4 linked regions of the Homo sapiens genome follow. The protein of the gene in region 1 purifies or fractionates together with the protein of each later gene. This does not show direct contact. Each region holds a gene or a part of one and is shown in the gene's direction. Other genes may lie near its edges.

Region 1 (2,754 bases):
TTTCTGAGTCTGGGCAGTGGCGTGGTGTGGCCTTCCTAGGAGACCACTAGACCTGTGAGCCCAGGTGCAGGCCCACCTTTTTCTGAGCTAACAAGAAGAGCTAGGAGAGGGAGAAGTTGGGGGTCAGAAGAGTTGTGGGGCGGGGGTGGTAATCCCTCGGCAGAGGCCACAGTTTGGTCTTCCGTTGCCGGTGGTGAGCTGTGCTTTCAGCCTTTGGGGAAGAGGAGGAAAGCCTGGGCTTCTGCCTTGGGTCTCACAAGCACCCGTTCCCAAGAGCTCAGGGCAGGCCCATCAGGTGGGACCTGTCCCAACTTCTAGTATTAAAAAGTAAAACTTCTGCCAGGCATGGTGGCTCAGGCCTGTAATCACTTTGGGAGGCTGAGGCGGGCAGATCACGAGGTTAGGAGATCGAGACCACCCTGGCTAATACAGTGAAACCTTGTCTCTACTAAAAATACAAAAAAATTAGCCGGGCGTGGTGGTGGGTGCCTGTAGTCCCAGCTACTCGGGAGGCTGAGGCAGGAGAATGGCGTGAACCCGGGAGGTGGAGCTTGCAGTGAGCCAAGATCATGCCACTGCACTCCAGCCTGGGCAACAGAGTGAGACTCCATCTCAAAAAAAAAAAAAAAAAAAGGTAAAACTTTGCCACGTGTGGTAGCAATCGCCTGTAATCCCAGCACTTTGGGAGGCTGAGGTGGGTGGATCACAAGGTCAGGAGGTCGAGACCATCCTGGCCAACATGGTGAAACCCCATCCGTACAAAAAATATAAAAATTAGGCCTAGCATGGTGGCTCACGCCTGTAATCCCAGCACTTTGGGAGGCCGAGGTGGGCGGAACACGAGGTCAGGAGATCGAGACCATCCTGGCTAACACGGTGAAACCCCGTCACTACTAAAAAAAACAAAACAAAATTAGCTGTGCGTGGTGGCGTGTGCCTGTAGTCCCAGTTACTCGGGAGGCTGAGGCAGGAGAATGGCATGAACCTGGGAGGCCGAGATTGCGCCTCTGCACTCAGCCTGGGCAACAGAGTGAGACCCCATCTCAAAATAAATATATACACACACAAAAATTAGCTGGGCGTGGTGGCGCGCGCCTGTAGTCCCAGTTGCATGGGAGGCTGAGGCAGGAGAATCGCTTGAACCCTGGAGGCAGAGGTTGCAGTGAGCTGAGATCGTGCCACTGCACTCTGGCCTGGAGACAGAGTGATATTCCATCTCAAAAAGTAAAACTATGGGGAATTGCCCAGAAAGAAGCTAGCTTGCCCCTACAGCCTGAGCTACTCTGATGTGGTTTCTCCTCTTCCCGCAGGTCCCGCTCCCCGAGGCGCAGGTCCCCCGTGCGCCGGAGATCACGGTCCCCGGGCCGCCGCCGCCACAGGAGCCGCTCCAGCTCCAACTCCTCCCGATAAACAGGCCACTGAAGCTCTCGCCCCTGTAACTTATACCCCACCCAGCTCAGTTTTGTCACTTTTCTAGCCAAAGGAAGACCAGTAGGAAAGCAAACCCTTGACTCTGGCAGGATTTGCAGGCAGCAGGCAGCACCCCTCTGCCAGCCGGGCCCCGGCTGCAGAAGTGCTGTTGGTTTGGATGCTGTGTGCCTGTCAAGATTCCCTCCGGTTTTCTGGCTAGAAAGCTCATCCGTTTCCGGTTTCTAAGAGTCAGTTCAGTGGCAGAGCCACCAGGGAAAAGTGAGGCTCTTGGGGGTGGTTTGACCCTGCTTACCTGGGAGCACACTTTTCCCTTCCCCGATGACCTGGGATGGTGGCCAGGCCGTGCCCTTGCTGTTGCTGGGCAGTGTCCTTTTGGAAAGGGAGCTGCCCCAGGCTTTAGTGCAGCTGCCAACCCTGTTAGGCCTGGCCTCTCGAGGCCTCTTCTGACCTCAAGGGTCACACCCCCTCAAAGATCCTCTCACCCATGGTAGTTGCTGCTCGTGGTTCTGTCTGTCCGTGCACCGATGCACACACCGCACCCCACCACTGTACTCTGAAATTGGCGAGTGAGTGGAGAGCCAGCTCTGCGGAGTCATCACGCAGCCATGGTTGTGCCTGCCGTTCATGGTGGTCTTTCAGGTTATCTTGGCAACATGTACATTGCTTTTATTTTTTTTCTTTTTTGCTTTCATTGTACAGTCAGTACTATAAAATTTCTCTTTTGAGTTTTATACCTTTGTAGCATTTTAGATGACATTGTGTTTGTACTTTGTTGTGTAGAGTGGAAGAATTGTGTTGAATAAACCCAAGATCGGAATGCAAATCTAGTTCTGGGTTCACTGCCTTCTCACTTGTCCCCTCGCCCCTAGTAACTTTCTGTTCCTCACCATCCGCAGTGGCACCTCCGATGCTTTCAGCCAGGAGAACCTAGGGTTTGTGTGCTGTGGGGACCAGGTTGCTCCTAGGGTGGACAAATAGAAGGAGATGGTTTTATCGCCACCTTGGAATGTGTGTGTGTTTTCAGACAGACTCTCGCTCTGTCACCCAGGCTGGAGTATGTACCATGGTGCGATCATAGCTCATTACAGCCTCCAACTCCTTCTTCAGTGTCCAGAGTAGCAGGGGCTAATTTTTTTTTAATTTTTTAATTTTTTTTTTGAGACAGTCTCTGTTGCCTGGGTTGGAGTGCAGTGGCGCAATATTGGCTCACTACAACCTCTGCCTCCTGGGTTCAAGTGATTTTCCTGCCTCAGCCTCCTGAGTAGCTGGAATTACAGGCACCTGCCACCATGCCCAGCTAATTTTTTGTATTTCTAGTAGAGA
Region 2 (3,500 bases), on another chromosome or scaffold:
ATTTTAAAATATTTTGTTACTAATTTCTTATAGCTAAATTTATTTTTCATTTGTTATCAGCGTTATGTTTGGTGGAAGAAAAGTTTGGAGGTTTGGACAAAAGACCATCCATTTCCTATTGATATAGATTACATGATCAGTGATACACTAGAACTGCTAAGACCAAAGATCAAACTCTGTAATTCTCTGGAAGAATCCATCAGGCAGGTACAAGACTTGGAACGAGAATTCTTAATAAAACTAGGTAAGCAATTGATTGCAGACAGAAAATGAAGGTGATATTTGGCAGATTATTTCTGGAATTTGCTTTATAATGTTACCAGTCAGAGCTTACATTGTATCTTTTCTATTTTCGGTGTTGAGTGTTACGTAGTAGTGTTAGGTAATGCCTGTGTGGTGTGCTTGATTTCACTAAGTAATTTCAAACCGGAGGACAACAGTTAAGCAGGACTTGCAGGACAGGACTTGAAGCAGGTGACAGTGATGGGGGAAAAAAAACCCACAATCCTGTCTACCTCTCTTACTTTTAGAATTTTTGGTTGCTAATATAAAATCTATTTTTTATTAAAGCATTTCTTATTTTTGCGTATATATTTTCAACAGGCATTATTTCCTAGAAAGTGCAAGCAAAGAAACTGTAGAAGGGAGTACCTGTCAGAAGTTTGGAACTCTACCCTACAGGATTTCAGAGCTTACCCACTGGCAGAGTTGCTTCTGTCTCTAAGGACTAGAGAAAATCTAGAGATAATTAGAAGGTTCTCTATATACTTTAGTATCCTGAGGTTGTTTTGGGGAGAAGAGTTAACTCTTGAACAGCTTCCACTAGAGCTGCAGGAACCTATATGTCTTTAGAAATAACCAGTACAAAGTATAGCCATACCAATCTGGTTTATATGCTGATAGTTCTTAGCATGTTTTATTGTAGTCATTTTAAAGTGACACGTTTTGGCCAGGTGTGGTGGTTCACACTTGTAATCCCAGCACTTTGGGAGGCCGAGGCAGGCAGATCACCTGAGGTCAGGAGTTTGAGACCAGCCTGGCCAACATGGCAAAACCCCATCTCTACTAAAAATACAAAAATTATCCAGGAATGTTGGCGCACACCTGTAATCCCAGCTACTCAGGAGGCTGAGGCAGGAGAATCGCTTGAACCCGGGAGACGGAGGTTGGAGTGAGCCAAGATCACGCCATTGCACTACAGCCTGGGTAACAAGAGCGAAACTCCATCTCAAAAAAATAAAGTAAATAAATAAAAAGTGACCCGTTTTCAGACTATTAAGCTAGTGTTTGATTTCCCACTAGAACTTGGTACATTCATGTCTGTCATTAAGGGATCTTTACTTTCGCCAGTTATGCAAATTATATAAATTTACGACATCGCATATCTGAAGAACCACTTTTCATGGTAAAGGTTTTACAAGTGCTGCTACTGATTGTGCAAGTATTAACTTTTCCTACAACTTAACCCGTAAAGGCATATATGATTCTTTTTGTTCTTTGAACCTTTTTCCAAGTTACCTACTTTCTTTTCCTTTTGAAATTTCTAATTGAATACATGATCTCATATTGAGCAGAGTATTTATGAACTTATTTCACTTGCTTTGGATCCTTGGAAAATTGTTAAGTCTTAGCCTTGTTTCCCAAAAACCTGCATGAATGGTATTCTCTGTATAGTGGACATGAGTAAATATTAGTGTGACACCTAGTTTAGTGACAGAAAAGAGAACAGTTGTGCTTTGTCCTTTGTAGATCAAAAGGCTAAATTAAAGGACTGCAGGCTTCTTGTGAGGACTTTGTCCTTGTTTAGAATATGGAGGTAAAAATAGATCGCTGTTTGTGAATGAAACTCTAAAGATGGTAGCGGCCGCAATCAGTGCACTCCCAAGTCTCCATTTGCTTCCTGGTTGAGGAAGAAGACGTATGCAGAAAAATCAATATTAAATCCGTTTCCTACTGATAAACCAAAAGATAATACAGTATTGTGCCTTTGGTAGTTTTTTGTTTTCAGACACCTGAAAATTCATTGTCTCATGTTAGTTTTATAGTATCCCAATGTTAACATAATAGTTAATTGGAAAACACTAAAACCATTTTTATCATATTTTAAAAATAACTTTTAATAGTATTAAAAGTAATGTGTTCATGACAGTAATTTTTAAAAAACCAAGAAAGCAATACCAATATTCCATACAGAAAGATAATCGTGTTAATATTTTAATACATATTTTTCTACTCTTTTTAAATTTTTTTTGTGTTTGTGATTTTCTAACCAATTGGTTCTACTTAATACATTATGAAATTTTTTCTTGACATTACACATATTCTCTTAAAGCTTTATTTTTTGTTTTGTAATTGGCTGTATTCATTTGTATCTATGTGCCATAATTTACTTAATACAGCTGTTTCACTCTTAGGTTGATTCTAGTTTTATACCACTGTAAATAATATTTTTAGTGTACCTGTGATTTTCTCAGGATAGATAGGATTACTGGCTCAGATTTTTATTTTAATTTAAGAACAAAACTAAAATGGTAATTGGCAATGTTATTTAATTCTGGTTTGGAAGTGTTCAAAGCAGTATTCATGAAATGAGAGGGTTAAATCACATCATCGCTAAAGTTTCTTCCTGCTTGAATCCTCTAAGATTCTATGCATGAACAGGTATTTATTTAACACCTACTGTGTATTTATTAATATATGGGCTGTCTTAAGTTTTGAACATTTAAGACAAGTTCTTTGTCCTCAGGGGTCTTATAATCTGATGTAATATTTATGAGATCGTTAGGAAAAAATAACAACATGCTATATCATCAAATGTAAGATGCTGTAAGTTCTCCACATGCTTTAGGAGCAAATAGGAGAAAAAGTAATAGATTGAAGTACTCATTGACAGTTCATGCAGGAAGTAAAACTGAAACTGAACATGAAGAGTGGATGGGATTTGAAAGTGCATATTGAAGGGTATTCTCTATTGAGAAGGATATTGGGCAAGCAAGATTTCAAAGCAGTGTGTTCTGTGACAGGAGACGTCTAAGGCAACTTCAGGGGAGGGCTTAGGAGAGAGGAGTGGGTAGCAGATCAGTGGGATCAGATGAGACCACATTGTGTGCATATCAAAAGTAGAGAGGGTGGATTGGAATTCCAACAGGAAGAAGAATTGACTGGGCAGTGAAATGTGGGATGGACACAGGAGGTGAAAGCAAATTCAGGCCAGGGAGTTCCATTAGGCTTAGGAGGAGAATGCTGTTATTGAAGAAAAAAAATTAGTCTGTATGGTGACAAAGCTGCTATGGCGTTTTGCCCCATTCCCCCGTCTTAATTTGCATACATTCAAATTGATAGCCACATATGATTTCTCCATTAAAGTGGCACGATTTTTTTCATGTCTTTTGAGTTTTTGGAGACTCTTTAAATCTCACTTGGTAAAGAGTGTGGCCAACGCTGTATCTTACATATGGCTGAGACTGTACCTCATCTGTTACTGTTTTCTACCTTTGTCC
Region 3 (3,500 bases), on another chromosome or scaffold:
CTCCGCCTCCCAGGTTCAAGTGATTCTCCTGCCTCAGTCTCCCAAGTAGCTGGGATTACAGGCGTGCACTATCACGCCTGGCTAATTTTTGTATTTTTATTTATTTTTATTTTTATGTATTTATTTTTTTGAGACGGAGTCTTACTCTGTCGCCCAGGCTGGAGTGCAGTGGCATGATCTCGGCTCACTGCAATCTCTGCCTCCTGGGTTCAAGTGATTCTCATGCCTCAGCCTCCAGAGTAGCTGGGATTGCAGGCACGTGCCACCACGCCCAGCTAATTTTTGTATTTTTAGTAGAGACAGTGTTTCACCATGTTGGCCAGGCAGGTCTCAAACTTCTGACCTCAGGTGATCCTCTCATCTCGGCCTCCCAAAATGCTGGGATTATAGGCATAAGCCACGGTGCCCAGCCCAACGTGATAATTTTATATATGTATACATTATGAAATGTATACATTATGAAATGTATACATATTGTATACATATATACATTATGAAATGTATACATAATGTATACATATATACATTATGAAATATATACAATCAAGTTAACACATTCATCACCTCACATAACACATCACCTCAAATAGTTACACTTTTAAAAAATAACAGCTTTATTGAGATATAATTCACATGCCTGAAATAGTCACCCTTTTAAAGTATACAGTTCAGTGAATTTTAGTATATTCATAGGCTTATGAGCCTATCACCACAATCTAAATTTAGAACATGTTCATCACCCCTAAGAGAAACCCCACCCATTAGTTGTCACTCCTCATTCTTCTCACCACTTCTACCCCAAACTCCAGGCAGCTACTACTCTACGTTCTGTCTCTATAGATTTGCCTATTTTGGAGATTTCTAACATTTTAAAATGAAAAATAGTTTGTAGGGTCTTTTTCACATTAAAATATCACATTTTATAAGTTGAATTTATATGAATATTTTACTTTCATGCCGTGTTGTTTCACTATGTTATCAGTGTGAATTTGTGGCTCCTTTTGTAGTATGTTGATTATGGTTGTGCCAGTGTGCTTTATGCCTTTGGGAGACCCTCTTCAGATGACTGCCATCAAAAGAGTCATAGAAAGCAATGGGTTGATTCCCTTATATCCACTTTTGACATTTTCTTTGTTATAGCAAGTGTGGTATTTTTTTTCTAAACAGGTCAGGAATATCCCGCTATAGTAGAATTTGCACCTTTTCAAAAAGCTGCAAAAAAGAAGACTAAGAAAAGAGATACCAAAGTCGGGACTATCGATGATGGTACAGTATAGCTCTAATTATATAATGCTATTGCTGTGGGGTTTTTAAAAATAATATCTTTGTGAGAGTTAATTCGACCCCAAAATTTTAAATTAGAAAATATACAAAATAAAGTAAGTGAGAAATGTTATTTGCCGATGGAAGCTTTGCTTAATTGTTAGACTAGAGAGAGTTTCTTGCACAGAATCTCTGCTCTCTTTGGCTAGGGCATTTCATTCTTCAACCATTGAACAATATAATGTTGACTATTGAGTAACAAATCACCATAGGTTTATTGATTAGAAGATAGTGGAAAGGCCAGGCGTGGTGGCTCACGCCTATAATCCCAGTACTTTGGGAGGCCAAGGCGGGCGGATCATCTGAGGTCAGGAGTTTGATACCAGCCTGACCAACATGGAGAAACCCTGTCTCTACTAAAAATATAAAATTAGCCGGGTATGGTGGTGCATGCCTGTAATCCCAGCTATTCGGGAGGCTGAGGCAGGAGAATCTCTTGAACCCAGGAGGCGGAGGTTGCAGTGAGCTGAGATCACACCATTGCACTCCAGCCTGGGCAACAAGAGCGAAACTCCATCTCAAAAAAAAAAGAAAAAGAAAATAGTGGAAAAAAATCAGGTTTCAAAGTTTAACAGGTGCTTCTTGAGGCCTCACCATTTTTATGATTATTTATTTGACTTTTGGTTTCCATTATATTTATAAAGAAGAAGGTTTGAACTGTCATGGGAAAATTTCCATACCCAGGTAACTTTGTATAAAGTAGCTGAAGTTGTCACTCCTATTTTCTGGTCTTTGGATATACAATTAGCTACACACATAGTATTAGGTTGAACAGGAATAGAAGAACTGAGGCCAGGCGCGGTGGCTCACTCCTATAATCCCAGCACTTTGGGAGGCCAAGGCGGGCAGAGTTGCTGAGGTCAGGAGTTCGAGACCAGCCTGGCCAACATGGTGACACCCCATCTCTACTAAAAACACAAAAATTAGCTAGGCATGGTGGCGGGCACCTGTAATCCCAGCTGCTTGGGAAGCTGAGGCAGAAGAATCACTTGAACCCGGGAGGCGGAGGTTGCAGTGAGCTGAGACCGCACCATTGCACTCCAGCCTGGACAACAAAAGCAAAACTCCGTCTCAAAAAAAAAGAAAGAAAGAAAGAAATACAAGAACTGAAAAACCAAAATAATTGCCATTTAAGGTACACTGGCTCCAGATTTTGAGACCTCTGTAATGTTATGTTAGATAGCTGTTACACAACTCTTTATGTTGGATAAGGACTAGGACCATATTTTATATCAGATTGTTACTTTAGAATCATCTAGTTTAATTTCCATCATTTGTTACTATTACAGGTATTTTATAAAGAAAACACGGTAAGGACTCAATAACACATAGCTGTGATACTGGTTTTATTACAGATTTAGATCTGGAAGACTTGATCAAGTGACACATAGAAACAAGCAATATAATGGCTTAGATGTGTCACCCTTTCTGATGTTAGAGGTCTAGGAGAGAACTCCAGGAATTCCCATCACCTCAAGTGCCACATCTAGGACTTCTCTCTAATTTATCTTTTTGGAACACCTAACTTAGTTTAGTAGGACAGTGACTTTTAAAAGCAAACTATGTAATACCCCTAGTGGTTCTGTTATAATGCATGGCGTCTCATTTTTCCTGACCCCATGTTATACCAGATTCCTATAGTGAGTATCAGTGATAGGAGTCCTGAGAGCAAGTGACCAATTAAGCTCTAAATAGTCTACCTTGTGGGTATGGTTTGGTTTTTTTTAATCTTCCACGAAGTAAAAAATTATCTTCTTTGATAAATCAGTATTGTAGATAATGTCTTCTTTTTTTGTTTAAAGTCTATTATATTTTCTGTTTCCTCAAATGATTATTTAGATCCAGAATATAGAAAGTTTTTGGAAAGTTATGCCACAGATAATGAGAAAATGACATCTACTCCAGAGACACTGCTAGAGGAAATAGAAGCAAAAAATAGAGAATTAATAGGTAAGTGGGCAAAAAGAATCAGGGCAACAGTCTTTTCATCACAGTACCTAAGTCTCCTACCTCCATCAGTTGCTAGCTGTGTGACTTCAGGGAAGTTACTAGTTTCTCTGAGACTGTTACTGTAAATTGCAGATGGTAATACCTGCCTCACAGCATTATGAGAATCCATTAAAGTGGGAAAAATTCTTTGACCTATTTAGTTTCACACAAATGTAATATAAATACAA
Region 4 (3,500 bases), on another chromosome or scaffold:
TGAATAGTTGAAGCAGGAAGAGAAGACTTATATTATCTTGTTTCTTAGGTAGATATTGTATTGGGTAAGAGGTCGTGGGTTGAATTCAATGGACTACATGGAAGTCATTAGTAAAATAGCTTCTGTTTATTGGGTACCACTTTGCATTGGACCTGTTCTAACTGTGGTATGTAAATCACTAACAGGCGAGTATAGTCCCTTTCAGCAGTGAGAAACATTTAAATGCTTTTCTGAACACTGCACAACCACAAAGCCAGGTTTTGAGAACTGTCAATGTTTCCAAAATCTGCTTGCTTTCTGCTATCATGTGCTTGAGGCTTAAGACAAAGTTAAAAGAATTTATAGTATTATTTGGTAGTTTCTGGACCTGGATCATCAGCCTGGAAAGTATCTAAAAATAAATCCCCCGTTTCCCTCTCAAGATTTTGATTTAGTGAATCTTGGTGGGTTCTGTGAGTCTGTATATTAAAAAAATCCAGGTGATTGTTGGTCATCAAACTTTAGTAACCACCAATCTTGTTAATGAAGAGATGAGATGTACTTAACTTCTAAGAGTTATATGCAGTGCATCTAGTCTGAGGTGACCAACACCCTAGGAAAAGACCTGCACAGTCCAGTACAGCAGGCACGCAGGCCACATGAGGCTGTTAAGCACTTGAAATATGGCTGGGCTGAATTGAGATATGCTGTAAGAGTAAAATACATTAGATTTCAAGGGTTTAATACAAAAAAAGGTAAAATAGATTAATAATTTTTATATTGATTTATATGTTAAGATTTTAGATTAATAAAGTACATTAATTTTGTCCTTTTTAAAATTTTCTTGATGTGGCTACTAACACATTTAAAATTACACATGTGGTTTGTATTATATTTCCTTTGGGCCAGCACTGTTTTAGACTATTCAGGAGAAGGCTTTATAATATAAGCCCAGGCACAGTGGCTCATGCCTATAATCCCAGCACTTTGGAAGGCCAAGGCAGGCGGATCATGAGGTCAGGAGTTCGAGACGATCCTGACCAACATGATGAAACCCTGTCTCTACTAAAAATACAAAAATTAGCTGGGCATGGTGGCTGGCGCCTGTAATCCCAGCTACTCGGGAGGCTGAGGCAGGAGAATTGCTTGAACCCGGGAGGCGGAAGTTGCAGTGAGCTGAGATCATGCTACTACACTCCAGCCTGGGCGACAGAGCAAGACTCTGTCTCAAAAAAAAAAAAAGGCTTTATAAAGGAGGTGCAGTGGGACCAAGGCCCTCCTCAGAAAAAAATGAAAAGGATTCCATACTAGAACAGATGTGGAAAGAATGGGTAAGGACAAAGGAATGTTTAAGATATGCTCTGCAGAATACTCTTTAGAATGGAGGGGTTCATTTATAAGAGTATTGGCACTTTGGGAGGCCGAGGCAGGCAGATCACGAGGTCAGGAGATCGAGACCATCCTGGCTAACACGGTGAAACCCCGTCTCTACTAAAAATACAAAAATTAGCCTGGCCTGGTGGCGGGTGCCTGTAGTCCCAGCTACTCGGGAGGCTGAGGCAAGAGAATGGCGTGAACCCAGGAGGCGGAGGTTGCAGTGAGCCAAGATTGCACCACTGCACTCCAGCCTGGGTGACAGAGCAAGACTCTGTCTCAAAAAAAAAAAAAAAAAAAAAAGAGCATTGGTGATCAGGCTAGACAGTTATTATTATGTTATGTTTCAGCCATATTCCGAAATCTTTCGAATACCTCATTTGATTCTTGCAACAATCTTATGAGATGGGTACTCTTGTTACTCATTTTACACTTAATGAAAGGCTTAGAGAGGTTATGTAGTTTGCCATTAACAGCCAGCAGGTAGTAAAGGTAGGTTTCACATTGGGCATTGTGACTCCAAGACTCACCCTTTACCCTCAGGGTTGTGCTACACAAAGATGTTTTGGCCATCCTTGTTGTTGGCCCTAATTAGAGGAAGAAATGGAAAGGGCCCATGTTTCATCCTAATTGATAAAAAGTTTGATATACTTTAGTATTACTAACGATTTAAATTGCTACTTTGTAAGGTTTTAAGACATTAACATGTTTAACATGTTTTAAAACATTAACATCAAGACTGATGATTGAAATGCTAATTCTGCAGAAGTGTCTGGTCTTTGGAATAGAAATCTTTTTTTCTTTCAATTCAACATTTGTAAGTACCTGCAGAATACCTGGCACAGTGCTAGGAGAAGGATTCAGAGACGAATGTGACACATTTTCTTCCTTCAAGGTGTGCTCATAAGTAAGCCATTTATCATTTATGTATTACACTACGTGTTGAAATACTCTGAAAAAATTTTTTTTTTTTTTTTTTGCTGATGTACTTTTCCCCTTTCAGCCAGTAAAAAAGAAGAAAATTAAGCGTGAAATAAAGATTTTGGAGAATTTGAGAGGAGGTCCCAACATCATCACACTGGCAGACATTGTAAAAGACCCTGTGGTGAGTATAGTAGGTGTTAGCAAGGCCCGCCAGAGCTGAGATGGTGTTTGACCTGGAGCACAACTGGCCTCTTTTTGTTCCCTCCCCCAACCCTCATCATTAAGTCCTGCTTTGAAAGTGCTTAATCAGATATACCATTTAACTAGCTTGGGTCTTTCTTTCAAAGAGACCTCCACCCACAGACTATTTCTTATTCTTCTAGGCTAAGAGACTGATAGCACTGGAAACTGAAATGTGTTAATCCATTTTGCAAACTCAGGTCCGATGCCGATGGGCGATGGGCGCATTGTCGGGCTGCCTAGAGCCTGGTGAGACTTCAGCTCCATGTCTTCTGTTTGAAATCCATCCCAAAAATGACCTAAGTGCGGTGATGATCAGAGCGGGGAGGGCTTGTAGCAATAGAGGGTTTCTTACTACTGAGGCGAGGACTGCCAAATTTCACCACGCAGCATCCGCAAACATTGTCCCCATTAAAGCTGTCAGGGCTATTGCTAATGTGTGTTTTTGTTTTTGTTCTTTTCCCCTAGTCACGAACCCCCGCCTTGGTTTTTGAACACGTAAACAACACAGACTTCAAGGTATAATATATAACCAACTGTTTCGGGCTAGTGGGTTTTTAGACCACATAGCCTTTGGGGATGATGCTGTTAGAAGAGCTTGCTTCGCATTTGTTTTTAAAAAGCTTTTCATCCTTACAGTGCAAATTTTAAGATAGAAGAACTCCTATATAAGCAGTGCCCACTTTCTGCATCTTGATATTTTGCCCATTTGTTTAATGTTCTTTTTAATGACCAACACATTGACTTCTCACTACTTAGTTGACAGTTTCTGCTGATGTCCAACCTAATGAAGGCAGTAACACACGTTCACTTAGGATCTGGCCATATGGCAATTCGCTTTAAACAATAGTGTTCAGGAAGAAATATATTGTATGTATAAAAGTAGGGACTGCTTATTTCTTAGGATTCCTCATAAACTGTGGGCTATAGATCTTAAAAGGCAGGGATCGAGGAAGGATAATGTCAAATTCTGCCATAACACA

What was found. The genes of interacting proteins can lie anywhere in the genome.
Region 2: the proteins of RNPS1 (region 1) and UPF2 purify together in Homo sapiens (co-immunoprecipitation; 5 studies listed by BioGRID and IntAct, with this or other methods). This does not show direct contact.
Region 3: the proteins of RNPS1 (region 1) and UPF3B purify together in Homo sapiens (co-immunoprecipitation; 5 studies listed by BioGRID and IntAct, with this or other methods). This does not show direct contact.
Region 4: the proteins of RNPS1 (region 1) and CSNK2A1 purify together in Homo sapiens (affinity purification with mass spectrometry; 4 studies listed by BioGRID and IntAct, with this or other methods). This does not show direct contact.

Annotation. Positions count from the first base shown.
Region 1 is NC_000016.10:2,252,620-2,255,373, reverse strand, and holds the end of RNPS1 (RNA-binding protein with serine-rich domain 1), read left to right. Parts: intron 1-1,310; coding exon 1,311-1,410; coding exon of another isoform or gene 1,411-1,477; 3' UTR 1,478-2,254; downstream 2,255-2,754. UniProt on the Homo sapiens protein: Part of pre- and post-splicing multiprotein mRNP complexes. Auxiliary component of the splicing-dependent multiprotein exon junction complex (EJC) deposited at splice junction on mRNAs.
Region 2 is NC_000010.11:11,948,810-11,952,309, reverse strand, and holds part of UPF2 (regulator of nonsense transcripts 2), read left to right. Parts: intron 1-60; coding exon 61-244; intron 245-3,500. UniProt on the Homo sapiens protein: Involved in nonsense-mediated decay (NMD) of mRNAs containing premature stop codons by associating with the nuclear exon junction complex (EJC).
Region 3 is NC_000023.11:119,842,964-119,846,463, reverse strand, and holds part of UPF3B (regulator of nonsense transcripts 3B), read left to right. Parts: intron 1-1,167; coding exon 1,168-1,266; intron 1,267-3,162; coding exon 3,163-3,273; intron 3,274-3,500. UniProt on the Homo sapiens protein: Involved in nonsense-mediated decay (NMD) of mRNAs containing premature stop codons by associating with the nuclear exon junction complex (EJC) and serving as link between the EJC core and NMD machinery.
Region 4 is NC_000020.11:498,791-502,290, reverse strand, and holds part of CSNK2A1 (casein kinase II subunit alpha), read left to right. Parts: intron 1-2,356; coding exon 2,357-2,458; intron 2,459-2,985; coding exon 2,986-3,036; intron 3,037-3,500. UniProt on the Homo sapiens protein: Catalytic subunit of a constitutively active serine/threonine-protein kinase complex that phosphorylates a large number of substrates containing acidic residues C-terminal to the phosphorylated serine or threonine.